7 linked regions of the Homo sapiens genome follow. The protein of the gene in region 2 purifies or fractionates together with the protein of the main gene of each other region. This does not show direct contact. Each region holds a gene or a part of one and is shown on either strand. Other genes may lie near its edges. The genes, in order: GDA, DTX3, NUP35, CHFR, FARSB, NMD3 and NDUFS6.

Region 1 (3,500 bases), on a different chromosome or scaffold from region 2:
TATAAACTTTCTGTGTACCCACAAAAATTAAAACTTTAAAAAAAATTTTTAAAGAAATGTATTCATATCAGAAATCTGAAGATTACTATTGAGATTTTAAAATTGAGATAAATATGCCCTCCTTTAAACAGATTATGTCATGATATAAAACTTACCTTATTTGTCAAAAGATTGTTTTTATCATACACAGATGTGTAGTTTTTATAACTGGGGTATAAGTTTTTCACAGCTTCAACTTCATCACGATTTTCACTTATATGGCTCTACAAGAAAAAAATAATATTTTCATTTTTCTTCTGTAAAATACCATTAGAAATTACACTTCCTACCTCAAAATGGTGTGAATGGTTTTCTACTTGCCTATTTAAGGGACCACATAGAAAGGCAATGAAGATTACACATGCATTTTGTTAGAAACAATTATATTCATCATAGATAATATAATGTATATGACAAAGAAACTGAATATTATGAACATGTAGTGTGTGTGTGTGGATGTGGGTGTGGGTGTGTATGTGTATGTATAATATCAAGACAAATTTTTCCAACAAAGTCTTTTCAAATTCTGACCTCCAGCTGGAACAAATATGAAGTCCTCCTTGAAGATAGTCAGGACCCTAGCAACCTGCCTCTTCTGGTGCTGGCCTTTCTTTTGTTTTGAGATAGGGTCTGGCTCTGTCGCCCAGGCTGGAGTGTAGTGGCACAATCTCCACTCACTGCAACCTCTGCCTCCCAGGTTCAAGTGAGTCTCCTGTCTTAGCCTCCTGAGTAGCTGGGATTACAGGCATGTGTCACCATGCCTGGCTAATTTTGTATATTTAGTAGAGATGGGGTTTCACCATGTTGGCCAGGCTGGTCTCAAACTCCTGACCTCAAGTAATCTGCCGGGCTCAGCCTCTCAAAGTGCTGGGATTACAGGCGTGAGCCACCGTGACTGGCCATACTGGCCGTTTAAGAAAAGAGCTCAGTGTTCATAAAAAAGCAGACAGTGGGGTTCACTTATATGAACACTGGAATTTGAGTAAAGAGAGCTGGGTTTGGCCCAAGTTCTGACAGCTATGTGTCCTAGAGAAAGTCATTCTTTTCTTTGGACAGCAATTTTCCCATCTTTCAAAAAAAAAAAAAAAAAAGGGTTGGGCTAGATGAGTGATTTTCCAAATTCTCTCGGCACTGAATATATTATTCATATAAAAATTCACAGAAACCCAATATATAGAAGGCATAAAAGCACTGCCCCTCCGGATGCAGCAGGATTGAGACTCTGGGACCCTGTCTCCATTCTGTGCCCTTTGTTAGTTTCCAGAATGAGTTCTCCAAAAAAGAGTTTGAAAATAGCTGAGCTAGAAAATTCCACGGTCATCAAGAAACAGCCCATAAGAATCCACATGCAAGCAAAACAATAAGTCCTATGCCCCCACACTGAAAAAGGCCCCTAAGACCTTTCTCTAGGGCACCACAAAATCTAAGAGGGCATAATTAATACTTCCAAGAATGGCAATGCCATTTAGAATATGCGTAGCTAAATTTTTAAAAGAAAAAAATAGCAATGTTCTGAAAACACGTGTTTTACTCAGACAATGAACTCCATCCCTGGCCTTGAGGAAGTCCCAGACCACCGATGAAATGCATGGACAGCAACAGAAGAAAGGACAATCTGATGATTCGAGTCATTTGGATAAATGTGAGTAAATGTGCATACATCCACATGCATCTCTCTAGCAAGGATAAACTTGATTTTGTTGTGTGTTCTTCTCATCTTATTTTTCATGTATTTTTAAATGTTCATGTGTATTTTATTTTGTCGGCGACAGAAGCATTTTGTTTGCAAAGCAGAAACATCAGGTAAGTTTTGAATTTTATCTCCAGCAGAGAAATGTGTGGGACTGAATTAAAAATTCAAAAATTATAGGCTGCAAATAATAATAACAATAATAGGGAAGGTGAGAGCGGTTAATGGTTCCTAAGAAAATAGATTTGGGAAACAAAAACCAAAAAAACACTGATTTACAAATGGTAAAGAATCAATGTGTTGTCTCTGCCCTGATCTGACCTTTCTTATAAGACCGTCAACTCCTAAGAGGAGAAATTTTAGTACAGTATGTAATTAAGCTTGGATGGGAGAAGGGGAACTCTCAATTTTAACCCAGATATAAGCTTTAAAAAAGTGTTTTATTCCTAAATTGCAACAATTTAATGACAAAGCAAGGTATACTTTTTTGTTCTGATTTTAAATTAAGAAACTCAGAACAAAAGGGATTTTAAATGCTATTTTGTAAGGTGGAAATTAGGCTCTTTTTGCTTTTCAAATAATAGCTGGTTTCTCTAAGAATGAAGGTACAGAACACACTGAGAAAGTATCAAGTGAAAGAGAAGTAGGAAATAAATGCATTAAATGTATCCTACAGAGAACAGATCACAGTCTGTTATTGATCTTGCCACTACTTAAAACGATTTTCTTGTCTTTAGAAGACTGATCAGAAAACATTGAGGGTATAAGGAACTTCAGGTTTCTTATCTGCAAAATGAAAGAATTGGATTAGGTGATATCTACAGGGGTCCTTTCTCTCCTGTTATGCTGTGACTCTAGGATATCTCAGTTGAAGAAACAGATTACTCAGTAAAACAACTACAGATTATTGGAAATGATGATTTAAGGGTGCTGAGAAATCTTGCAGGTCTGCATAGAGGCATAAAGAGAAGAAGAATACCCACCTGAATGTGCAAATCACGGGTTTTAGCAATGTTGCCCAGTTCACCCATCAAAGTCTCAGAGCAGGAGAGGGAAAAACGTGGTGTCACTATGGGCTTCACTCTAGAATACTGGAGATAATTAAAAACAATTGATACCTCTTCCTTACATCATATACAAAAATTAACTCAAGATGGATTAAAGACATAAATGTAAAACCGAAAACTATAAAAACCCTGGAAGGGCCAGGTGTGGTGGCTCACACCTGTAATCCCAGCACTTTGAGAGGCCAAGGCAGGTGGATCACCTGAGGGCCGGGAGTTCGAGACCAGCCTGACCAACATGGAGAAACCCTGTCTCTGCTAAAAAATACAAAATTAGCTGGGCGTGGTGGCGCATGCCTGTAATCCCAGCTACTCGGGAGGCTGAGGCAAGGGAACTGCTTGAACCTAGGAGGCGGAGGTTGTGGTGAGCCGAGATCTCACCATTGCACTCCAGTCTAGACAACAAAAGAGAAACTCAGTCTCAAAAAAAAACAAAAAACCAACCAAACAACAACAAAAAAACAACCTTGGAAGACAACCTAGGCAATACCATTCAGGACATAGGCATGGGAAAAGATTTCATGACAAAGACACCAGAAGCAATTGCAACAAAAGTAAAAATTGATAAATGGGATGTAATTAAACTAAAGAGCTTCTGCACAGCAAGTGAAACCACCAACAGAGTAAACAGACAACCAACAGAATGGGAGAAAGTTTCTGCAAACTATGCATCTGACAAAAGTCTAATATCCAGCATCTATAAGGAA
Region 2 (4,176 bases):
GTCTTCTTACCCCCTGGACACCGGGCGGGAAGACGTACTGGATGACAATGGTGCCGTACTTCTCATAGCTGGGCAGTAGGAGGGTGGCGTCCTTAGAGACCAGCATCCGCCCATTCTGGGGCTGGTTGCCCACCAGCTGCCCATAGAAGCGGCCGCACATGGGGCAGGCCTTTTTCACCTGCAGAGCCCGGGTGATGCAGCCCTCGCAGAATGAATGCCGGCACTTCTCCAATGTCTTGGCATTCTGGATCTCCCCCAGACAGATGGGGCAGGTGCTCTCCTGCTCTTCTGCCTCCTCCCGAAGGCGAGGAGGAAGAGGTGGGGGCAGGGGGGGAGGAGGAGGGGGGAGCCCCCGAGCTCCTGGGGGCAGAAGTGGGGCTGCTCGGAGAGGGGGTGGGCCTGCGCGGTGCATCTCAGGGTGCTCCCCTCCACCCCCCAGAGCCAGGCAGCCCATCAGCTCCCCCTGCCTCTGAGCTTTCTTCAGCTCTTTCTCTGCCTCTTTTAGCAGCCCCTTGAGAGCCTTCCGGGCTAGGTAGAGCCCATTTGGAGGGGCCGGGGGAGGACCCTGTGGGGAAAGCTGGAGAACATAGATGTCAGAAGTCTCGCCATCTATGAGGATGGACACACGGTGCTCCTCCCGAAGCCGGGCCAGCCGGGCTGGGGTCTCTTTGCTCAGGAAGTCCCACACGGGCTTGGACACAGTCACTTTGTTCTTGCAGGTGCCTCCACAGGCTGCCATTCTGGACAGGACGAACGACACTGCCCCCAGGGTGAAAGGGACTCAGGGTGGGGGGTCCCCATTTGACAAGTATCAGTGCCTCCTACTTCAGGTTCCTTCCAAACCCTCTATTACCTCTGTTTTCTCAAAGCCTAATCCCCAACCCTTCACCCAAATTCATATTCTGTCTCCCCTTATCTTCCAAACCCAAAACCCACTGAAGAGCAAAAAAGTTTCCAGAGCTATATTATCATCTAAGCCAAGTATCAGTCTTGTTTCTCCTGTCATTTCTCCCAGATCATAGAAACAACTTGCCCCTCCCACCTCTTGGGGAAAAATGGGCTGTTTAAAGGGGAGGGAGACTCTTTGCCCCTCCTTTTTGCTTACTTTGATCCTGAAGAGCTTAGAATTGGCATGCAGGCTCACTCTTCTTTCCCTGCTCCCTACTTGTAGGTCGTGTGACCTGGTAGGGCGGAAAAATGGAAGGAAAGTGAGAAACCCCTTCTCCCAATTCCCATGGCCCCCAACCCAGCAGCCCATGGAACAGAGACAGAAACCTGGGTATAGGTTACTAAGAATGGCATTACTTGGAACATGGAATGAAGGAAACCAGTTTAAGGGTGAAAATTGAGGATCCCTTGCGGGGGAGATACCTGGAAAGCCCATGGAAGATGATGGCAGCAGAAATCCTTCTATTTCCACTCAGCTGACCAGGACTGGGAGTGGGGGAAGGGTAAAAAGTTATGATGGCAAATGTTACCATTCCCCTCAGCCAACCCAGAAATAAAAACTCCCCTTCCATCTCCTCTCTTCTCTGCAGAATTCCATTATCAGCTTCTCCCCAAGTTGCTCAAGAAGGAACTTCAACATGCTAACCTTCCTCCTTTCTTCCCCAGCTCTGAGGCCCCCAAGAAAGCCTAGGGCACACATAAGAGAAGTCAGGAAAGAAAACGCCCACACAGGTGGAGGTCTTCTTGCCACCTCCCTCAGATCACATGGACCGGAATATTTCCTATGCTCCCCAACTCCTCGCCTGCTCCACATTGCCAAATAATTCAGCCCCTATTGCCAGGGAGCCTTCCTTGAGAGCTAACTCAGTCCCTTCTGCTGAAGTCTGTTAAGGATGTGAACAAAGTGGCAGCAGCCCCTGCAATAACAAAGTTCTCATTGTCACCTTTTAAACCCAGCACAGGCAGTGCTGTCTGTCAGCTCCCAAGTCTGGCATTTAGGGAGGGGCGGGGCTCACACAAGGGCTCAGCTGGAGGGGCCTGATGTTTTCCCTGAGTCTGGTCGCATTGGGCTACGGGGCTGTCTCCACAACACTTCCAAATGCAGCTCAAACAGAAAGAAGGGCCATTAGTGTGACCTCCATTTATTGACTGATCCAAGAAGGAGCAGCTGTCCCTTCATGCCTCCATCATCGTCCCCCAAGGCCAGATGCACCTCGAGATTCATAAGTGAAAATGGAACCCTAGAGTCTCAGCCCATACAGTCTATCCGCGATGCAACACTTCTCTCCCCATCACGGGGGACCCAGGACCTAGGTGTCCTAGGTCCAAGTCCTGCTGGCACAGAAAAGGGAGGCGGGGCCCCAGTTTAGGGTGGGTCTGTGATTCCTCTGTGGCAACCCAGGCCGGACAAGGAACCAGTCTCTCCCTCCAGACAGAGGCCAGAGGGAGGCACAGCCCGGATGGGCAAGGGTCCCTGGGGGCATCCACTGAAGCAGCTCCCGCCCTCCCCCCACGGCCTCCTCCAAGACCCGACCCGGAACCAACTCCCCACATCCCTCAGTAGCCAAAGCCCCCGGATCCCCACCGCCGGGTGGGGGTGCATGTCGGCCCGATCGCAGCCCTCAGAACCCCCGAATGGAGGCCAAGGCTGGAGGGTGCTAGAAAGATGATCGGCCGGGCACGGAGCGGGGAGCCCGGAGCCGCGCGCGGGGAGGGGAGGTGGAGGAGGGGGCGCCGGGGGAGCGGGGGGCGCGTGAGGGGTGCGAGCGGGGCCCGGGGGGCGCGCGGTGGGTGTGGGGGGCGCCGGGCTCACCTACCTCTCGTCAGCGCCGCCATTGCCGGTCACATGACTGAGGCTGTTGCTGGGATGACGGTCCGGGCCTTAGCAACAAGGAGGGGGAGACCCCGAAAGGTGGGGGATTGCAGGGGGTGCAGGCTGAGGAAAAGGGAAGGAGGGAGGACAGCACCCCCTTTCCCCTCACAGGTGATAATCACCGTTCCTTTGACCCCCTTCTATCCGCAAGCCCCTGCCCTTCCTCCCCAAAACAAAAATGGAGGCGCTGTCCCAGTCTTTGGAGGGAGGGGGTGGCGTCATGGAACTGAGGGTAGGAGGTTAAATCCCTGGAGACGCCACCCTACTCGCTCCCCGCTCCCGGCGGAGCACTCTCCCTTTTCTTTCCCAGCCAGCTGCGTAGCAGCTCCCAGGAGCTGGTGGTGGATGGGTGGGTGAAGTGTTGGTGGGTATATGGGGATTCGGGGGGAGGGCGGCAATTTTTTGAATCCTTATGGTAGAAGGGCCTTTGAGGAACAATGTGGGATGGGAAGAGTCATAGTAAAAAGAAAAGCATTGGCTCTAAAAAATAAACAAATCCGGGTACTAAACTATTTCAATCCCCTCCCTCATCTCCTGCCTCTTTCTAGATTGTTACCTCCTATGACCCCCACAACCTGCTCTCAGATGATCATTGGTCAGTGCCTCTGATTTTTCTTTCCACAAACAGGGATATGGAGGCTGGTGCAGAATGGGAAGCGAATACATTTTTTAAAAAGTGGCTCGAGGTGGTGGTGGTGTCAAGTGTATGGTTCAAATAGAGTTAAAAACTCTCAAAGAAGAAAAAAAAAAAGCTCTGCTCTGCTTCCCACATCAAGCAGTCTCCGCCCAATCCAACTCACTTCCCTGGGGCCACATCAAGCCAGGTTTTTCCACCAGCCAAAAGACTTCCTCAGCCAAGACAGGCAGGAATCTCCCAAACTGGCAACAACCTCTATTCATCCACCCCTTTTTCACTCCCCCCTCTAGACTGGAGGGCTAGTCACTTTCTTCACTTTCCCAGGACCCTGCTGTACTCTTCCTTCCCTCCAGGAAGAGGACAGCTTTCCCAGGAAGCCTGGGGGAATACTAGATTCCTTTTCTTTTAGCTGGTGGGCTGAGAGGCCTACTCACCTTTACAAAGATGGAGTGTTAGCAAGCCCAGAACTCTGGGAAGAGGAAGGGTCCCATCACCCTACTCTTCCCTGGCCCTCACTACCGCTGACCTCCCACAAGGTTAAAGACTAAGTTTTCCATTCCCGTGCACACCCTTCACAGCCTTTTTAAAAAAGTTCACAGCCATCTGTCTAGAAACCCACATCCTTAGTTAGGGGCCCAACACCTTGAACACCAGAATTCTTCAGCTGGTCTCTGCACCCTTAAACACAGGCTCCCTGAGAGAAGTGAAATTTAAAAAA
Region 3 (3,369 bases), on a different chromosome or scaffold from region 2:
TCAGTTAATGTTAATATGAACTAATTCATTCTGAAATAGTACCATTCCATTTAAGTACTTTAAAGAATCTGGTATCGCTTTGCACAAGAAAGAGAATGGATTAGTAGTCAAGAGACCTAAAATCTAGGCCTCACCTTTAACAACTCTGGACAAGTTACTTAAGCCCTCTCAGTTTCTTTATCTGAAAAATGAAGAGGTGAGGACAGATTACCTCTAAATTCTAAACTCTATGATTAAATACCTTCGGCTTACCACAAAGAGTACTATAAACATCATCACATTTTACAAACTAAGAAAAACAGACACAGTGAAACCAAGTGACACAACGACCAATTTCAATCCTTGGTCTTGTGCTCTTCATATAGATTAAGCTACTTTGCCTACATCACCAATAACTTACTTTGTCAATACATGGTTTTACACCAATCATGATGGATTCTCCAAAAATCCTCCCATCTTTGCTTAAGGCTTTCCGAGCCTGCAGTTTAGATTGATAACGAATATGCATCCAATTTCCTGTATTAGACATCTGCAAAGAATAAAACTGTCTCTTAAAATAGAAAATATATAAAATCTACATCTAATGAATTCTACTAGAAAATAGGAACATGGTAAGATAAATTTACTTCCATTCCGTATTTGATGCCTTGTAAAAAGCTGTAAAGTTCAACAAAAATCGTATTTAGAACAGCTTCAACAATCTCTCAATTCTCTACAATCAACATGTACATATTCTCTGAAAGTAAGATACTTCTCAAAATATGTTTATTGTAAAGAGATCAAAGCAACACTTGCCATAAAGTTATTTAAAACTACTCAATTTGATTTTGTATAGGAGTTAAGTCAATCTCTAGCAACAAAAAAGGATTTGTTACTTATAACTTGTAGCACAAGGTAAGATAATTTTTTAAATTTTAGAGCTATAAAGCTCTAAAAACTCTAAAAGCTCAGGAACTGCCTCCTACTTCTTTTATCCCCAATAAAAGCAGCTCAAATTGGAAAACAGTAATATAATACTTGGCATAATCTATCTTTTTTAAGACTGTAAACTGTTTAAGAAAGGAGGTGAGAGGAGGTGGATTTTCAAACTCTCAATTCTCCATATCTTCTCACTATATCTCTTTTTATCAAAAATTAGGCAACTTCCAGCCTTCCAGACTTCAAAGGATGTATTATATCAAAACTCAAAAAAAAATTTAAGTTTAAAAAAAACCCACAAAATTCAGAAGCAGTTTCTCTCAATTCACAACTTATCCCTCTTTAGTCAAAACTCTGAACTGAAAAAAATTAAGCCTTACCACATGTTTTAAGATATTCCCATACTGTGCAAATTGTAGTAATATGTAGGAAGCAGATGCTTGAGGAAACCTGAAAAAAAGAGTTGTCCAAAGAAAACGTCAGCTTCTACTATCAATGTGAATGCAAATTACTACAAGATAATGTTTCAAGATAAATGGCCCCCAACTGTCTAGAACGTTAACAGGAGAGTGCTGATCATCCTGTTTTCCCCGATATGGGCTAATTCTGTCAGTGACTAGTCACTCAAAAGCAAATACCTTAAAGTTAGTCTTATCCTGCCATTCTTCTCCATCCTCAGATTCTACCTCTGAAATCTCTAAAAATGCTACTCTCGTTGCCATTATCCAGGTCTTAGAAAAAAAACTATAAAGTTGCAGTTCTATATATAATTTATTTCAATATGTGTATGTTAATATGTAATATATTTAGGTATACTACGGTTATGAAAAGATAAAGAATTTTAAATTATAAACGAATCATTATACATTGAGCATCACTTAAAAATTCTGAAATTTAGTATCATAACAAAGAGAAAATTCAGCATCAAAATATTTATGGTATAGAATCACTTAAAAGGACAGTTACCAAAATTTGATTAGCCATATCTCTGCATGAGAAAATTCTAAGTAATTTTTACTTTCTTCTTTATAAAGTTCTGTATGGTTTGGATATTTTACAATGACATATTATTCTTTTATAGTCTTAACAATAAAGCTGTTTTCAATTTGAAAACAATAACCACTACCAATCGCATAGAAATGGCTATCTAACTTCAGTTATCTGAAGACTGAATTAGAACCCTAAAGAAAAAAAAAAATTCGAGTCTCAAAAATAAATCAGAAACCAAACACATTAAAAATCTATGTGAGGCTGGGCACGATGGCTCACACCTGTAATACCAACCAGCACTTTGGGAGGCCGAGGTGGGTGGATCACTTGAGGTCAGGAGTTCGAGACCAGCCTGGCCAACCTGGTGAAACCCCGCCTCTACTAAAAATACAAAAAATCAGCTGGGCATGGTGGCGGGCACCTGTAATCCCAGCTACTCAGGCGGCTGAGGCAGAAGTATCGCTTGAACCTGGGAAGGAAAGGTTGCAATGCGCCAAGATCGTGCCACTGCACTCCAGCCGGGTGACAGAGTAAGACCTCATCTCAAAATAAATTAATTAATTAAATAAAATCTATATGAGTAAAATATTCACTGCAATCAGAACTGAAAATTCATTTGTATAAAATCTGGACATGAAATTTCTAACCACAAAGAAAAACAACAAATAGGTTGGGTGCCTACAGGGCAGAGATCAAACAAAAATGAAAAGAAGAAAGAATGGCTGCAAGTGAGGGAAGTACTTAAGAAATAAAACATAATTCTAAAACTCTTGGACCACTTTGAGTAGAAACTTACATTCTAGTACTCTATAGCAGAATCACCCAAAACAATGAATATTTCATAACCCTAAGTCAGTAGGAAAAAGTTAAACTACCAAAGAAAGAACATATATAATGCATCCTTTAGAGGTACTTCCCCATAAATGATCAAAATAAAATACTTTATCCCTTAAAGGAGAATGCTTCAGTTCTTGAAATTAAAGTCATAGAGGGTTATTAAAACACGAAAGTAAAAAAATAAACAGCTGGGAGAGTTAATGTCTGAAATACGAAAAAATACTAGGAGTGCTTCAAGTAATTTATCTAATTACTGGAAATCTTAAAAGTTAAACCACTACTACTGAGCCTGAAAAACAGATTTAAGAGTGGGTACCTATTTTCAAAAACATGCAGCCAAGCTGGCTCATGCCTGTTATCCCAACTACTCATGAGGCTGAGGTAGAAGGATTGCTTGAGGCCAGGAATTGGAGGCTGCAGTGAGCTATGATCATGCCACTGCACTCCAGCCTAGATAACAGAGAGATTGTCTCAAAAAAAAAAAAAAGCCATTTTATGAGAGACTATAAAAATGTAAATGTAAAAGAAGAAGAAGAAAAAAAACACACCAGCCCAATTGCTATGGATATAGGACTGAGTATGGACTTTCTAGAGAACAACGGAATGCAATGACCCGCTTTTTAC
Region 4 (3,500 bases), about 75 Mb from region 2:
AAAAAAGCCACCTGAATATGTGCAGTTGGGGGCAAGCATGTTGCATGTTCAGAGCTAGAATGAAGCCCATCGAAGCCGTGTTAGGGTGGTGGAGCAGGTGAGATTTCTTTCTTTTGTGTCTCTCACTGTTTTCCTGGGATGAGCATGTGGTGTTCAGTTTAAGAAACGATGTGGGTCTGAGGCCGGGTGCAGTGCATCACGCCTGTAAATGTTCAGTTTAAGAAACGATACGGGTCTGAGGCCGGGTGCAGTGCATCACGCCTGTAAATGTTCAGTTTAAGAAACGATACGGGTCTGAGGCCGGGTGCAGTGCATCACGCCTGTAAATGTTCAGTTTAAGAAACGATGTGGGTCTGAGGCCGGGCGCAGTGCATCATGCCTGTAATCCTAGCGCTTTGAGAGGCTGAGGTGGGAGGATCCCTTGAAGCCAGGAGTTTGAAACCATCCTGGGCAACATGGTGAGACCCTGTCTCTACAAAAATAAAAAATAAATTAGCCGGGCCTGGTGGTGTGCACCTGTAGTCCTAGCTACTCAGGAGGCTGAGGTGGGTGGATCCCTTGAACCCAGGAGGCGGAGGTTGCAGTGAGCTGTGATTGTTCCCCTGTACTCCAGCCTGGGCCACAGAGCGAGACTCCATCTCTAAAAAATAACAAACCAGAAAATGTGAGCCTCGCCTTTTTTCAGGGATACAACTCCTCGCCATCACAGTCCATCACAACCTGGGTGGCGTTAGCTGGATGTGGCCCCGCCCCGATTTCCATGAGACCCCTCCTGAACAATGTTTCCAGAAAGAGTTGAGCTCCTGAGCCTGGTGCTGACGAATTGTGTTGGAGACAGCCCTCAGCGCTGAGTGCGTGTAACGAGTGTCCTCTCTCCACAGGTGCGGTCTGCCTGCAGCCTTTCTGCCACCTGTACTGGGGCTGCACCCGGACCGGCTGCTACGGCTGCCTGGCCCCGTTTTGTGGTAATACTGGCTCTTCAGGCCCCAGTTGCTTTGACCTTTGCATGTTCTCTTGGTGAACTTGAGGGCAGGGGATGGTGGGGTCCATAGCCTGATGTTTATAGGGATGAGGCCACTGTTGGTCATCAAATGATACCTATTCCTGGCTGGACTGCAGAGGTGTGTCAAATTCGTGTTAGCTCAAAATCAAGCCTTAACAGAATTATTAGGGGAGATACTCCCAGGACAGAATCCTTGCAGCGGGGTTCTGCTGTTACGATACCAAGACCAGGTGCTGGGGAGACTCGGAGAGCTGATCTTTTTAAGGAGGGAGTGGAATGGAAATCATTTCTGCTTGTCCTCTGTTTAAAATTGAGTTTTATCATTGAACTTCTTATTCTTTCTAGAATCTGTAATGAAAAGAAATATGTTTATCCTCAGTGTCGGGCAGACAGTGCTTTCCTGCGACATCATTATAAACAGGTAACATTGCCCCTTCATCTCGGCAGAGCTCAACCTGGGTGACAAGTGTCTGGACGGCGTGCTGAACAACAACAGCTACGAGTCAGACATCCTGAAGGTACCGACTCGCTGCGGGCTGGGGAGCCGGGAGCCACATTTTCTCCCTAGTGCAGCCAGCTGGTTCTCTGCATTCTATTGGTGTTTATCTGTTTTACCTGACCCGCTGCGGGTTGGGGAGCCGGGAGCCATGTTTCCTCACTGGTGCAGCCAGCTGGTTCTCTGCATGCCATTGGTGTTTGTCTGTTTTTTCCGTATTCCAAAAATAGGTATTTCGTTTTTGTGCCTCCTGCCACCAATTCGTAGGAGCCGCTTCCCGCAGCTCTTGTTCCCGGCAGCTCTTGTTCCCACAGCTCTCGGTGAGGGCTTCTTGAAGGTGCCGCCCTTTAGCAAGACCAGGGCCTTTTCTCTGGTCCCTGTCTCTTCTGGCCATTTGCCTTCCCACGTCTAGGAAGCTACCTCGGTTTCTAGGATTTACATATGTTTAACATGCGCATTCGCCCTCCTGCCGAGCACTTTGCTGACAGCACACACAATGGTGGGGCCTTGAGGCTTGCCACAGACACACCTGGCAGGCGCCCGCTCAGCCCCACACTCTGCTTTGATGCCCACAGAAGGAGCTCAACAGCTCGTGTGTGTTTGAAGGGCACAGAGAACAGATGCCAAGTCCTCAGCTTTTCTTGTGCAACAGCCTGGGCTCGTTGCTGGGCTGTGTGCACTGTGGCCTGGCTTTCATGTCTCATTCACACCTGGGCTGTGTAGGTCTTGGCAGAACTTTTGAGAGACTCTGGTAACTGTTACACTGGAACCTTTTGGGACTTCCAGGAGGCTCTTGGACAAGACTTCTCGTGCTGCAGGCCGTGAACGTGCAGCCCTCTGCAAATGCCACTTATAAGGGTCTGAGCTTTGGCTTTGCACACTTTCAGGGGCCTTTTATGAAATGTTTTCTCTCGTTATTTCAGTGTTTCTTCCTCTAAACGAGTATTTCTTATTCCTCTCTTTTTTTGCGTCACAGAATTACCTGGCAACCAGAGGTTTGACATGGAAAAACATGTTGACCGAGAGCCTCGTGGCTCTCCAGCGGGGAGTGTTTCTGCTGTCTGGTGAGTTCTTCTGTTGCCTCCTGCTCTAAGGCGCATGTGAGTGTCCAGGGCTGTGCCTGCGTGTCTGCTCTCCCAGTGACAACTCCGACCTTCACCCACCCTGGAAGAGAGGAAAAAGATCCTGATGCTTTCAGGTTGTTTTTGTTTGTTTGTTTGTTTTTTGAGATGGAGTCTCGCTCTTGTTGCCCAGACTGGAGTGCAGTGGCATGATCTCAGCTCAAGGCCCCCTCGGCCTCCTGGGTTCAAGCGATTCTCCTGCATCAACCTCCTGAGTAGCTGGGATTACAGGCATGTGCCACCACACCCAGCTAATTTTGTATTTTTAGTAAAGATGGGGTTTCCCCATGTTGGCCAGCCTGGTCTTGAACTTCTGACTTCAGGTGATCTGCCCACCTCAGCTTCCCAAAGTGCTGGAATTACAGGCGTGAGCCACTATGCCCGGCCTTCAGGTTGTTTTTTGAAAGTTGAGCGTGGGCCGGGTGTGGTGGCTCACGCCTGTAATCCCAGCACTTTGGGAGGCTGAGGCGGGCGGATCATGAGGTCAAGAGATTGAGACCATCCTGGCTAACACGGTAAAACCCTGTCTCTACTAAAAAAAGAAAAATACAAAAAATTAGCCGGGCGTGGTGGCGGGCGCCTGTAGTCCCAGCTACTCGGGAGGCTGAGGAAGGAGAATGGCGTGAACCCGGGAGGCGGAGCTTGCAGTGAGCCAAAATCACGCCACTGCACTCCAGCCTGGGGGACAGAGCGAGACTCCGTCTCAAAAAAAAAAAAAAAAAGACAGTTAAGCATGAACCTGTATGACATATTCCAGCAGCTTCTATCCTTGTAGGGGAGGGTGGGTGTGGCCGACTGCCACTACTGCTGCTTGAGACCCTCACTACAGCAGTTACTGCTGTTACTGCTTGAGACCATCATTACAGGACTGAACAAAGGG
Region 5 (3,500 bases), on a different chromosome or scaffold from region 2:
AAGACGCCATAAAAGCATTAAACACCAGTTTTAAAATATGTTCTCAAAGATGAATGGCTATGACTAAAATTTTCATGGAAATTTTCAAATGGCTACAATCTGCATGAATCTAATTCCTCAAATCAACCCTCTATTGAGAGCTAAAGCTACGTTCCTCTACAAGCTTTTTCCTAGAAATTTAAACATGGCTGCTGATAATGACAAGGAAAGAAAAGAAAACCCAACTTAGCAAAGTCTTTAAGGAACATATTTCCTTACCTTTCTTTGAAGACCTGAAGTCCTCGAACCAATCCTTCCAGACACAGGAGATCATATCTATTGGCAGGGACGTCAATTTTGTAAAGAACAACATCAGAGGCTCCTGCTGCCTTTACATTACCTTGTTCTTTACTTATTATTTCCTTCTCAGATGTCTAAAACAAGCCAAAAAGTAATGATAAAAATTAAATAATTTAAACTCTCTTTAAAAAGTAAAAGTTGTCAGCCCTATAAGGCAGTAACTACATTATACATATTTTCTATAACAAGAACATGGGATTATTATATCCACGACAAAAACAACATGAAAATATTAAGTGTTATAATCATAGCAGACAGAAAAATACTTCAGCTTTAACTGAGTTCAGATATCTGGCAACCTCAATCACCCCAGAAAAGCACAAATCCATCTAAACAAGGGTCAGCAAGCAATAGCCCCCTGGCCAAATCATACCTGATACTTGTTTTTGTAAATAAAGATTTATTGGAACACAGACAGACCCATTCATTTACATATTATCTACTGCTACTTACACACTGCAATAGCTGAGTTGTAACAGAGACTATAGAGCCAAAAAGCCTAAATATTTACTATCTGGCCCTTTACAGAAAAAGTTTTCCCATCTCAAGCTAAAAGAAAATTAAAACATCACCAAGAACATAAAGTAACAACAACAAAAGTGTCAAAGGGGTAAAAGAAAGATGATTCACTAAATAAAAGAAACACAACTTCTTATAGGATGACTCTAAAACCTAAATCCTGTGGGCACCCAAGTCCACATGAGAATGAGAGGGGTAGTATAAAAACTAAAAACAGTCAGAGACCATCAGACACTGGTAAAAATTAGAAGGGATAATAGGTACAATGGGAAGCAAACTAGTGATAGCAAAGGGATAGTGCAGCAGAATGAAGGCAGCCAAGAGGGAGATGACAGAAGAAACACCACTAGAATCACGTTTAATGCAGTGGCAAAGAGTTTAGAATATCTCAAGCACCACACTACAGCAGAGTAACAGATTTTCTTAAACATAACCACTGCAGAGAAGTTACACTCTATTCCTTATGTTTACTACAGCAGGGAACTGTAAATATATTTAAGAAATTTTCACTTGAAATGATTACAAGTTGTATTCCAACTGTTAATGTTACGCTTTAATTATGTGGAAACTCCACTTAACCAGAATTCCTACTATTTCCACCACCAACAACCTGCTAAAATAACTGATGGATTTCTATCAAAATATGTAATGATTTTTGTTTTACATGATGCCCTCCCACTGCCACAATATAAGTAGTTCAAATTTTTGTCCAAATTAAGAATTATATCCACATTTGCACAATATGCAGAGAAATTCACTTCTGGCCACGAGTATTATGTGCCAAAGTCCCACCTGAGGAACCACAGGAGTCTATGCAATGCTGGGGCTGTACAAGGTGGTGCTGGGCTCCAAAAAACCTCTACCTTGGGCATCTCAAACTTAGGAGGCAAATTTTTATAATTAGGGAAAATGAAAAATGAAAAACAAGAGAATGAAGAGGAGGAGGAAGGAGTAAAAAGGGGGAAAAGAAAAGAAGGGGAATGGGGAGAGGCAAAAAGAGAAGAGGAAGAATTCGAGTTTAAACAATGTTCAATCAAAGGGGTTAATAAAATTACTGTTTCAATAGTGAAGAAAGCTGAGTCACCTCCCAGGAGATGGCAGATCTCAGGAGGGACCTATATACAGAGAAGATAATATAATAACCGGAGAAATGAAGGCATCTGCATTCATTTTTCAGCAGCACCCCCTTATCCACAGGGGATATGTTTCAAGCTCCCCAGTGGATGCCTGAAACATTGGATAGGACTAAATGTTACATATACCATGTTTCTTCCTATACATACATACCTATGAAAAAGTTTAATTTATAAATTAGGCACAGTAAGAGATTAACAACTAATAATAAAATAGAACAATTAAAATAATATACTATAATAAGAGTAATGTGAATGTAGTCTCTTTCTGTCTCAGAATTTCTTATTGTACTATACTCACCTATTTTCAAACCACAGTTTGCTGCAGGTAACCAAAACTGTGGAGGCAAAAAACTGTGGATAAGGAGGAACTACTGTAAAAAAAGATCTAATTCCTTTGCAAAAAAAAAAAAAGACACAGAAGCTTACATCTTCTTTCAGTTTCAGCATCTCAGCTCATACAATGACCATATGTAAAGACTGAATTTGTCAGTGCTACCTGACAATAATCTTACAGAAATTTAAAATCACATAAATTTCAGAGTCAAAAAAGAAAACCATAAAGATCATATAATCCAAACCCCTTATTTCACAAATGAAAAGGAGGCCCAGAGAGACTCGTCTGGACTATAGAGTTCAGACAGGCAAAGTAATTGTCCATAGTTACACAGCTAGTAAATGTTAGAACTAGAACTCAAATAATCTAACATCCAGTCCAACACTCTTAGATATCACATAATTTCAAACATAATTCTGAGGTGTAGTAAAATTACGAATAGCAACTTATAAACTACAGAAATCTCAGCCAATTTCTCAAGTATACAAATAGATTAGTACAAAGATGATCTTTCTGTAACATTAGTAAGGCAGCAGGAAAAATAAGGTAAGATAATGTACAATTTTTTAGCCTGAACATTTTTTAACTTTACACCTAAGGTAGTGTTATAAAAGCACTGAATAGGTGAAGATAGAAGGCTTAGGAAAAAAATAATACTAACTATCAGAAAATTATCTTTTAAATTAAAGTATGTCTTTTTTTTTTTTTGAGAAAAAAATTGGGCTTTTATTGGCAATTACAAAAGTAATAGATTTTCTTACATAATACGTTCCTTCAGTAATATATTTTTCAAGTATTTTACCATAGAATTTCTAAAGTACTTTGTCATTGACCCCATAATTTATTATAAAGTAGGTCCCATAATCACATTTTTTGGAAGTTGCTGAAATTGAGATAAAAAATATTGTTTTTTTATGAGAAAAACTGGACAAAATACAGAATGGCCAAAACTAGATTAACTGGCTCAGTTATGTCTACTAGGTGAAAGAAAATACAGAATCTGTTACTGTAGAAATTTTAAGAGGTTTTGAGTCAGTTCCAGTATAAAAATAAGGCCAAAGTTCTCCTGTAAAATCATCATTAAAAGTACAGAGAAGAGATCTATCATTCAAATTATAAAAGGAAACCTCATTCATTTCACAGTCTAAAAAAATGCCAATCTTACTAGGTGT
Region 6 (3,500 bases), on a different chromosome or scaffold from region 2:
AAATCAATGTTTATTCTAAAAGATTAAGCAAGTATAGAAGACAGGGTCTTTCACACTAATTTCATTCAGTTTCTCATGATTCTTAACCTCATCATGTTAGAACTTAACAGATTTTTCAGAATTAATAGTTTTTTTCCAAGGCTTGATACTGTGAAGATTATTTTTCACGGATATTTTATTCAGCTTTGAATAACAGCCTTAACTCTAAATGCCTTCTTAACTGAACAATGTATGTGAAACGAAGTGAGCCTAATAAAAATGAACCTGAAAAAATGCTAAATGTCATCATTTTTAGCTGCAAATTTATTTATTTATCTTTTGGAGACGGAATCTTGCTCTATCACCCAGGCTGGAATGCAGTGGCATGATCTTGGCTCACTGCAACCTCCACTTCCCAGGTTCAAGCAATTCTCCTGCCTCAGCCTCCTAAGTAGCTGGGACTACAGGTGCATGCCACCACGCCTGGCTAATTTTTTGTATTTTAGTAAAGATGGGGTTTCACTGTGTTTTCCAGGCTGGTCTCGAACTCCTAAGCTCAAGCAATCCACCCACCTCAGCCTCCCAGAGTGCTAGGATTACAGGCATGAGCCACCGCACCCGGCTAAATTTATTTTTGCTCTACAGATAATATCAGGTATTTTGATCGAGAATGAAAATGTGATTAGAAAAGGAACAATCACAATAAATCTTGGATTTACCCCACCAAGAAAAATTATTTAAAATGAAGCCAGGCATGATAGGTGACACCTGTAATCCCAGCTACTTGAGAGGCTGAGGTGGGAGGATCACTTGAAGCCAGGAGTTCGAGACCAGCCTGAGCAACATAACAAGACCCCGTCTCTACAAAACGTGTTTTAAACATTAGCTGGGAGTGGTGGCATGTGCCTGTAGTCTCAGCTACTCAGGAGGCTGAGGTGGGAGGATTACTTGAGCTCAGAATTTTGAGCTGCAGTGAGTGATCATGACACTGCACGCAAGCCTGGTCAATAAAGCAAGACTCCCATTTCTTTTTTTTTTTTTTGAGACTGAGTTTTGTTCTTGTTGCCCAGCCTGGAGTGCAACGGCGCAATCTCAGCTTACCACAACCTCCACCTCCTCGGTTCAGGCAATTCTCCTACCTCAGCCTCCCAAGTAGCTGGGATTACAAGCTTGCACTACCACGCCTGGCTAATTTTTTTGTATTTTTAATAGAGACAGGGTTTCTCCATGTTGGTCAGGCTGGTCTCGAACTCCCAACCTCAGGTGATCCACCTGCCTAGGCCTCCCAAAGTGCTGGGATTACAGGCTTGAGCCACTGCACCCAGCCTCCTGTTTCTTTAAAAAAAAAAAAAAAAAATTTTGCTATTATACCTTATCTGCAGTTTCAGAAATCTCTAAATTGATTTGTTATTTTCAAAAGTGTGAACTCCTACCTCTTACCCCTAAGAGTTACATTCATCCTCTTTAACACAGGAAAAAAGGGAAAAATCTAAAGCCTTACCACATCTGGAACTCTATCTGAGTTCATTTTGTTGACATGCTCATCATTTAAGTTACAGTTGGCCAAATCAAACCTGAAATGTAAACAATGAAAAACTTAGTGACCATTTACCCTTTGTGTGTAACTTTTTATTTTATGGCTATCACCTAAAACTTCCTAAAAATCAAACATTTAATATGCTTCTCACTTTAAAAGTTCTGTCATTTATTACACAATGAACATGCTTCTGTAGATGCTGGTAAAGACAATAAGGAACTCTGAGTTTCACTTATAATCAATTATTGTCCACCTTGCCATACATTTGTAAAAGCAAAACAGACTTACATATCAGTCCAACTTTAGAATTCAATTAGTTGCTTCCTTCTAGTTTATTTTAAACAAACAAACAAAAAAAAAACACCTCATTCTGTAGTAAAAGAAACTGAAATCCTAAAAGCAAAAGCAATATTTGAGGGTTTAATCACACACTCACTGAAAAACTCTGATTCAGAAAGAACTGATCTATGCCTTTACAAGCCCTTTGTATATATATAGTTGTCATATCTTAAAAGTGAGTTATCTGAGCAGTAGCAACTGCACAATAAAAAAGACCCAATCTGCAAAAGCAGTTCTAAATATGGATACAACCATATAACTTCAAGGCTCAATTAACAAAATCTTACAACAAATTACTCTTTAAGATTATAACCAAAATGGAGTAACTATGGGCTTCTGTCCAACCCAGTTTAATTTAGTTATCAACAATAAAATGAGTTATAAGGCTCCTAAGAACCCTTCGATCTTTTTAGAATAAACAATGTTAGTATTTTTAGGTAGTTTTGCTGGTTCCCAAAGAAAATTTGCAATCCTAATTGGCAGTTTAAAATATGAAATAATACAAACCCTAACACCAGGTCTCCGGGATTTAGAAGATGTCCCAAATGAGTACGACAAAAATACTGTTTATCTGTATTCATTTCAGATGTCTTCTGTACCCAGACTTCCCCGAGGGTATGCTTAAGAGGAAAGAAAATGTACTCTTCAATAATCTAAACATAACTCTAAAAGCATCTCAGAGAAAAGTTAAATACAATATTGATTTTTGGTTTTCTAATTTTTAAAGACAGAAAATTTTTTGTATTTTTCTGATGTATGAAACACTGTCAAAATTAACAAATTACTGAATCATGAGTATAGAAAGACTCACAAACAATTCATAAAAATAAATCATTGACTTTTTCTAAGATTTTATTCAAGACTTTTATAAAACATTAATAATGTCCCTAAAAATATATATATGTAGAATTTTCAAAAGAAATGTTTTCACAGGAAGATGGGCCAACATAGGCAGAGTGAACAAAATAACTGAAAAGGTAGGGGAATCTTAAAGCAAGAACGTATTCCAAGCAAACTCTTGCTTGACACAAGGGTTCAGAAAATCAGGGTCCAGACAAAACAGCCTAGAAATCCTGGTAGTAAACCACTAGAGAGGCCAAATCTTTATCAAATTAATTTTTAAAGTATCTACTAGTGTAGACTACAATCATTCTCTACATCTGCTATATATAATATAGTACATCTGCTATATATAATATATATATAGCAGAAACAACATCCCAATTTTTAAACTAGAAAACTATTAATTCCCTTTCTAACATGCCAACACCTTTAACAACAAAGACAGACCAACTGAAGTGAGATCGAGAGAAAAATACTAAGAGTTATAAATAAAATTAAGGAATCTCAAAATAAAGTTATGAAAAGAATCAAGTGTTTCTTATTGCAGTTGGTCAAAGAAAAAGAAATGAAAAAAATGAAAAGAAATAGAGCAGAAGGAGAAACTGAAATAAAAGACAAGTCTCAAACTTAAGAACTGCAAAAGAAAAGTCAATTAACAGGGAGACTACATTTTATTTAACAGGATTTACTTTCTAGCTATTAGACTTCTGCTTGTAAGAAATTTATTAACCTCTTCTAGCTATTTTTTAAAAACCAAGAAAATACAGTATCTGGTTTTATATCTGCCTGAAGGGAAATGATA
Region 7 (3,500 bases), on a different chromosome or scaffold from region 2:
CTGCCCCCCAAGTCCTAGGAATAGTGGCTGCTTCCTGCAGCTACTGACCCCTGGGTACCTCAGCACTCCCTCTCAGCTCTCTGGTGGCATCCCTCCTGTGACCAACAGTGTGTGTGTGCACGCACGAGAGCCAACATGGTTCGGGTGGTGCTGCGCTGGCCTCAAGAGATGGCTCAATGTAGACGAAAGATGTCACAAGTTTCTTCCACTGCTGATCCGAGGAGTGCGCTTGTCCTGGGTGATAACACAAGTTACCACCACGGGTGTGCAGAGCCTCTGGAGGTGCCGCGTGGGCCCAGCCTCAGCCTCACTTGCTTCCCCACCCGAGTGTGCCCTGCCCTGCCGGCCTCTTGGGAGAAATAAGAATGAGCGACACCAGCCACAGAAGCCTCAGGGAGGAACCTCTGGTCAATTCCTGCGTGGGCCTGAAGCCACTTCCCTCTTAATTTTTTTTTAATTGTGGTAAAATACACATAACATAAAACTTGCCATCTTTACCATTTCTAAGGACACCACGTATATTCACATTATTGTGCAACCATCACCACCACCCATCTCCAGAACCTTCCACCTTCGTAAACTGAAACTCCATTTCCATTCAACACTAACTCCAAATTCACCCCCCGCCCCCGGCAACCACCAACTACTTGCTACCTCTAAGAAGCGACTGTTCTGGTCCCCCGTATCAGAGGAATCACACAGTGTTCACACAGTACCTCTGAGTACCTCACGCAGTACCTCTGAGTACCTCACGCAGTACCTCTGAGTACCTCACGCAGTACCTCTGAGTACCTCATACAGTACTTCTAAGAAGCGACTGTTCTGGTCCCTCGTGTTAGAGGAATCACGCAGTCTGCTTCTGTGACTGGCTCACTTCACTGAGCGCAACGTCCTCCAGGCTTATCCGTGTTGTGGGGCGTGTCAAGCGTTCTTCCTTAAGGCTGAATAATATTCCACTGTCCATGGACAGATCACATTTTGCTTATCCGTTCAGCTGACAATGGACCCCCAAACTGCTTCCAGATTTGAGTTATAATGAATAATGCTGCTATGACACGAGTGTACCCCGGACCCCGCTTTCAGTTCTTTTGGGCACACGCTCAGAAGTGGAACCGCTGGATTGGATGGAAGTCCTAGTTTCAACTTTTTGAGGAACCCACACGCTGTTTTCCTTCACGGCTGTGCCATTTTACATTCCCAGCAGCAAGGCACAAAGTTTCAGTTGCTCCACGCCGTCACCCACGCTTGTTTTCTGTTTGGAGGGTCTTGGTAGTTTTCCTCTCTCGTGAGCACTACTCAATTATTTCCATTAACGAAATCTACACACTCTTCTCAGAAGGATAAAACTTCACATTATCGCAACAAAACAGCACGCCAGGTAGACATTTGCACCGCGTGCAACTGCTCCTAATCCTGGTGGCACCACGCACCTTGAAGTCTGCTACTGAAGAACTGAGGGCCAGGCAGGTGAGGCCACAGGGTCACAACTGGACTCAACCCTGCCAGCCTAGGTGTCTCAGAAAACGTGCAGAATCTCGCTGACCCAAACGCCCAGCTGTGGGCTGTGCGGGTCAGGGAGTGACTCCGCCCTGCCGAGCATCTGAGGAGAGAATCCATCCCACTGGCGGGCAGATGAAGGCACAAGCTGAAGCCCCCAGCTGTTCCGTGATCCTGACACACACAGGTGGAGAGGGGTGGCACAGAGTCGCACTCAAGGGATCCCAGCCTCCTGATGTTCCGGGTTTGCTGCCTAATTCCTTCTTTTCAAAAACTAAAAGTAAAGACCTTGTGTATAGACACTAACGTTTAACTTCAGTATTTTAAAAAAATCTAAAAGTGAAGCCTGCCCTCATGGTGGTGGCGAAGGCAGCAGCAGAGTAAGGCGAACACACACTAGAGGCTTCCCTGGGACAGGCGCTGCTCCAAGCCTTTCCTCATCTACACGGACTCAGTGCCCACGAGCCTACAAGCTAAGTCACTGAAGCACACAGCCCTCATAAGCCCATCAGCGCAGGAGCCTGAATCCGGATGCGGCCAGGCAGGGCAGCCCCAGCTACTAACCAAAAAAGCAAATGATGTCGCCAAGTACCTGGCTACCAGGCTGTTGTTATTGCTGTTATTATTACCACACCTCACTGCAGACCTCCCCCAGTCATCCCTTCTATTAGGGGACAAGTCATATCTGCTTTTAATTTTACTTGTACGACTATAAAGCAATGAAAATATTTCCATCAACAGCAGAGAAATACCTGGTCACTTCCAAGTTTGTTCCAGTCCCCCATCTGACTTATGTGGCCCCAGAGTGCCACCTGCTCCAGGACCATGTGAGGCCTGACTTCTGGCTGGGGGTGGCTGGCACATTCTTTAGCACGTGAGGAGTCTCCTCACAGGCAGGCCCGTCACAGGCCCAGGGGCCATGGATTCCTTTGAAGGTACCCCCGGTCAAAGCTGGGCAGGAGCCACACAAAGATACTTTCCACTGTTTTTCTGCAAAGACCAGCTCAATTATCTAGCTTCCTGCTATGCTTGTTCTACAGGTGAAGTTCAGATTCAGTTTATTTTTTTCTTTTTTTTCTGGAGATAGAGTCTTGCTCTGTTGCCCAGGCTGGAGTACAATGGCATGATCTCAGCTCCCTGCAGCCTCAACCTCCCAGACTCAATGACCCTCCCACCTCAGCCTCCCACGTTGCTTGAGCTACAGGCATGTGCCACCATGCTAGGCTAATTTTTATATTTTTTGTAGACACAGGGTTTCACCATATTGCCCAGGCTGGTCTTGAACGCCTGGGCTCAAGTGATCAGCCCACCTTGGCCTCCCGAAGTGTTGGGATGACAGGCATAAGCCTACTGTGCCTGGCCCAGTTTACTTCTTAAAGTATTACTTGACAAAACTAGAGGACAGTACGATCAGGGGCTGCCAGGGGTTGGGCAGAGGGAGGGATGAACAGGCAGAGCACAGAGGATTTTTAGGGCAGTGAACTCGGTACAACACTGTCACAGTGAATACATGTCATTACACATCTATCCAAACCCTAGAACATACAACATTAAGAGTGAACCTGTGGACTTGAGTTAGTAATAATGTATGAGTATCAGCTCATCAACTGTGACACAGGCAGCACACTAATGAGAGATGGCAGTAAACAGCAGAAACTGAGCTGGGGGGCTGTGAAAACCCTACTTTCTTCAGTTTTTCTGTAAATCTAAAAGTGTTCCAAAAAATTAAGTCTCTCAGAAGCCAAACAACTACTACTAAAAATAGTACTAAACACCAAATTTGTGTTGAAAGAAGGAAAGCTTGGGCAGGATGCCCACTCATCATGTTATCAACATGCCTTGAACCTCCAAGGTGTGAGGCCAAGACGTGCCCTGGACACTCAGGATGCTGAATGGGGGAAGGCACTGGAGGCTAGGCCGGCTGGAGCGTTGAGGTCACAACCAGGACGCCCTGGGTGAGCTGCCGGTCACAGACACTACTATCACACTATCCCGTACCCACC

What was found.
Region 1: the proteins of DTX3 (region 2) and GDA purify together in Homo sapiens (affinity purification with mass spectrometry; 2 studies listed by BioGRID and IntAct, with this or other methods). This does not show direct contact.
Region 3: the proteins of DTX3 (region 2) and NUP35 purify together in Homo sapiens (co-immunoprecipitation; one large-scale study listed by IntAct). This does not show direct contact.
Region 4: the proteins of DTX3 (region 2) and CHFR purify together in Homo sapiens (affinity purification with mass spectrometry; 4 studies listed by BioGRID and IntAct, with this or other methods). This does not show direct contact.
Region 5: the proteins of DTX3 (region 2) and FARSB purify together in Homo sapiens (affinity purification with mass spectrometry; 3 studies listed by BioGRID and IntAct, with this or other methods). This does not show direct contact.
Region 6: the proteins of DTX3 (region 2) and NMD3 purify together in Homo sapiens (affinity purification with mass spectrometry; 3 studies listed by BioGRID and IntAct, with this or other methods). This does not show direct contact.
Region 7: the proteins of DTX3 (region 2) and NDUFS6 purify together in Homo sapiens (affinity purification with mass spectrometry; 2 studies listed by BioGRID and IntAct, with this or other methods). This does not show direct contact.

The regions. Positions count from the first base shown.
Region 1 is NC_000009.12:72,222,440-72,225,939, reverse strand, and holds part of GDA (guanine deaminase), read right to left. Parts: intron 2,821-3,500; coding exon 2,713-2,820; intron 264-2,712; coding exon 156-263; intron 1-155. UniProt on the Homo sapiens protein: Catalyzes the hydrolytic deamination of guanine, producing xanthine and ammonia.
Region 2 is NC_000012.12:57,603,448-57,607,623, reverse strand, and holds the start of DTX3 (probable E3 ubiquitin-protein ligase DTX3), read right to left. Parts: upstream 2,801-4,176; 5' UTR 2,766-2,800; exon of another isoform or gene 2,054-2,765; 5' UTR 1,893-2,053; exon of another isoform or gene 1,435-1,892; 5' UTR 1,372-1,434; intron 1,182-1,371; 5' UTR 1,135-1,181; coding exon of another isoform or gene 1,107-1,134; coding exon 1,106-1,106; intron 760-1,105; coding exon 11-759; intron 1-10. UniProt on the Homo sapiens protein: Regulator of Notch signaling, a signaling pathway involved in cell-cell communications that regulates a broad spectrum of cell-fate determinations.
Region 3 is NC_000002.12:183,155,443-183,158,811, reverse strand, and holds part of NUP35 (nucleoporin NUP35), read right to left. Parts: intron 1,369-3,369; coding exon 1,299-1,368; intron 530-1,298; coding exon 401-529; intron 1-400. UniProt on the Homo sapiens protein: Functions as a component of the nuclear pore complex (NPC).
Region 4 is NC_000012.12:132,846,106-132,849,605, reverse strand, and holds part of CHFR (E3 ubiquitin-protein ligase CHFR), read left to right. Parts: intron 1-881; coding exon 882-965; intron 966-1,450; coding exon 1,451-1,521; intron 1,522-2,475; coding exon 2,476-2,563; intron 2,564-3,500. UniProt on the Homo sapiens protein: E3 ubiquitin-protein ligase that functions in the antephase checkpoint by actively delaying passage into mitosis in response to microtubule poisons.
Region 5 is NC_000002.12:222,642,593-222,646,092, forward strand, and holds part of FARSB (phenylalanine--tRNA ligase beta subunit), read right to left. Parts: exon of another isoform or gene 3,030-3,500; intron 2,330-3,029; exon of another isoform or gene 2,293-2,329; intron 414-2,292; coding exon 259-413; intron 1-258.
Region 6 is NC_000003.12:161,245,311-161,248,810, reverse strand, and holds part of NMD3 (60S ribosomal export protein NMD3), read right to left. Parts: intron 2,476-3,500; coding exon 2,363-2,475; intron 1,554-2,362; coding exon 1,481-1,553; intron 1-1,480. UniProt on the Homo sapiens protein: Acts as an adapter for the XPO1/CRM1-mediated export of the 60S ribosomal subunit.
Region 7 is NC_000005.10:1,804,407-1,807,906, reverse strand, and holds part of NDUFS6 (NADH dehydrogenase [ubiquinone] iron-sulfur protein 6, mitochondrial precursor), read right to left. Parts: intron 1-3,500. UniProt on the Homo sapiens protein: Accessory subunit of the mitochondrial membrane respiratory chain NADH dehydrogenase (Complex I), that is believed not to be involved in catalysis. Complex I functions in the transfer of electrons from NADH to the respiratory chain.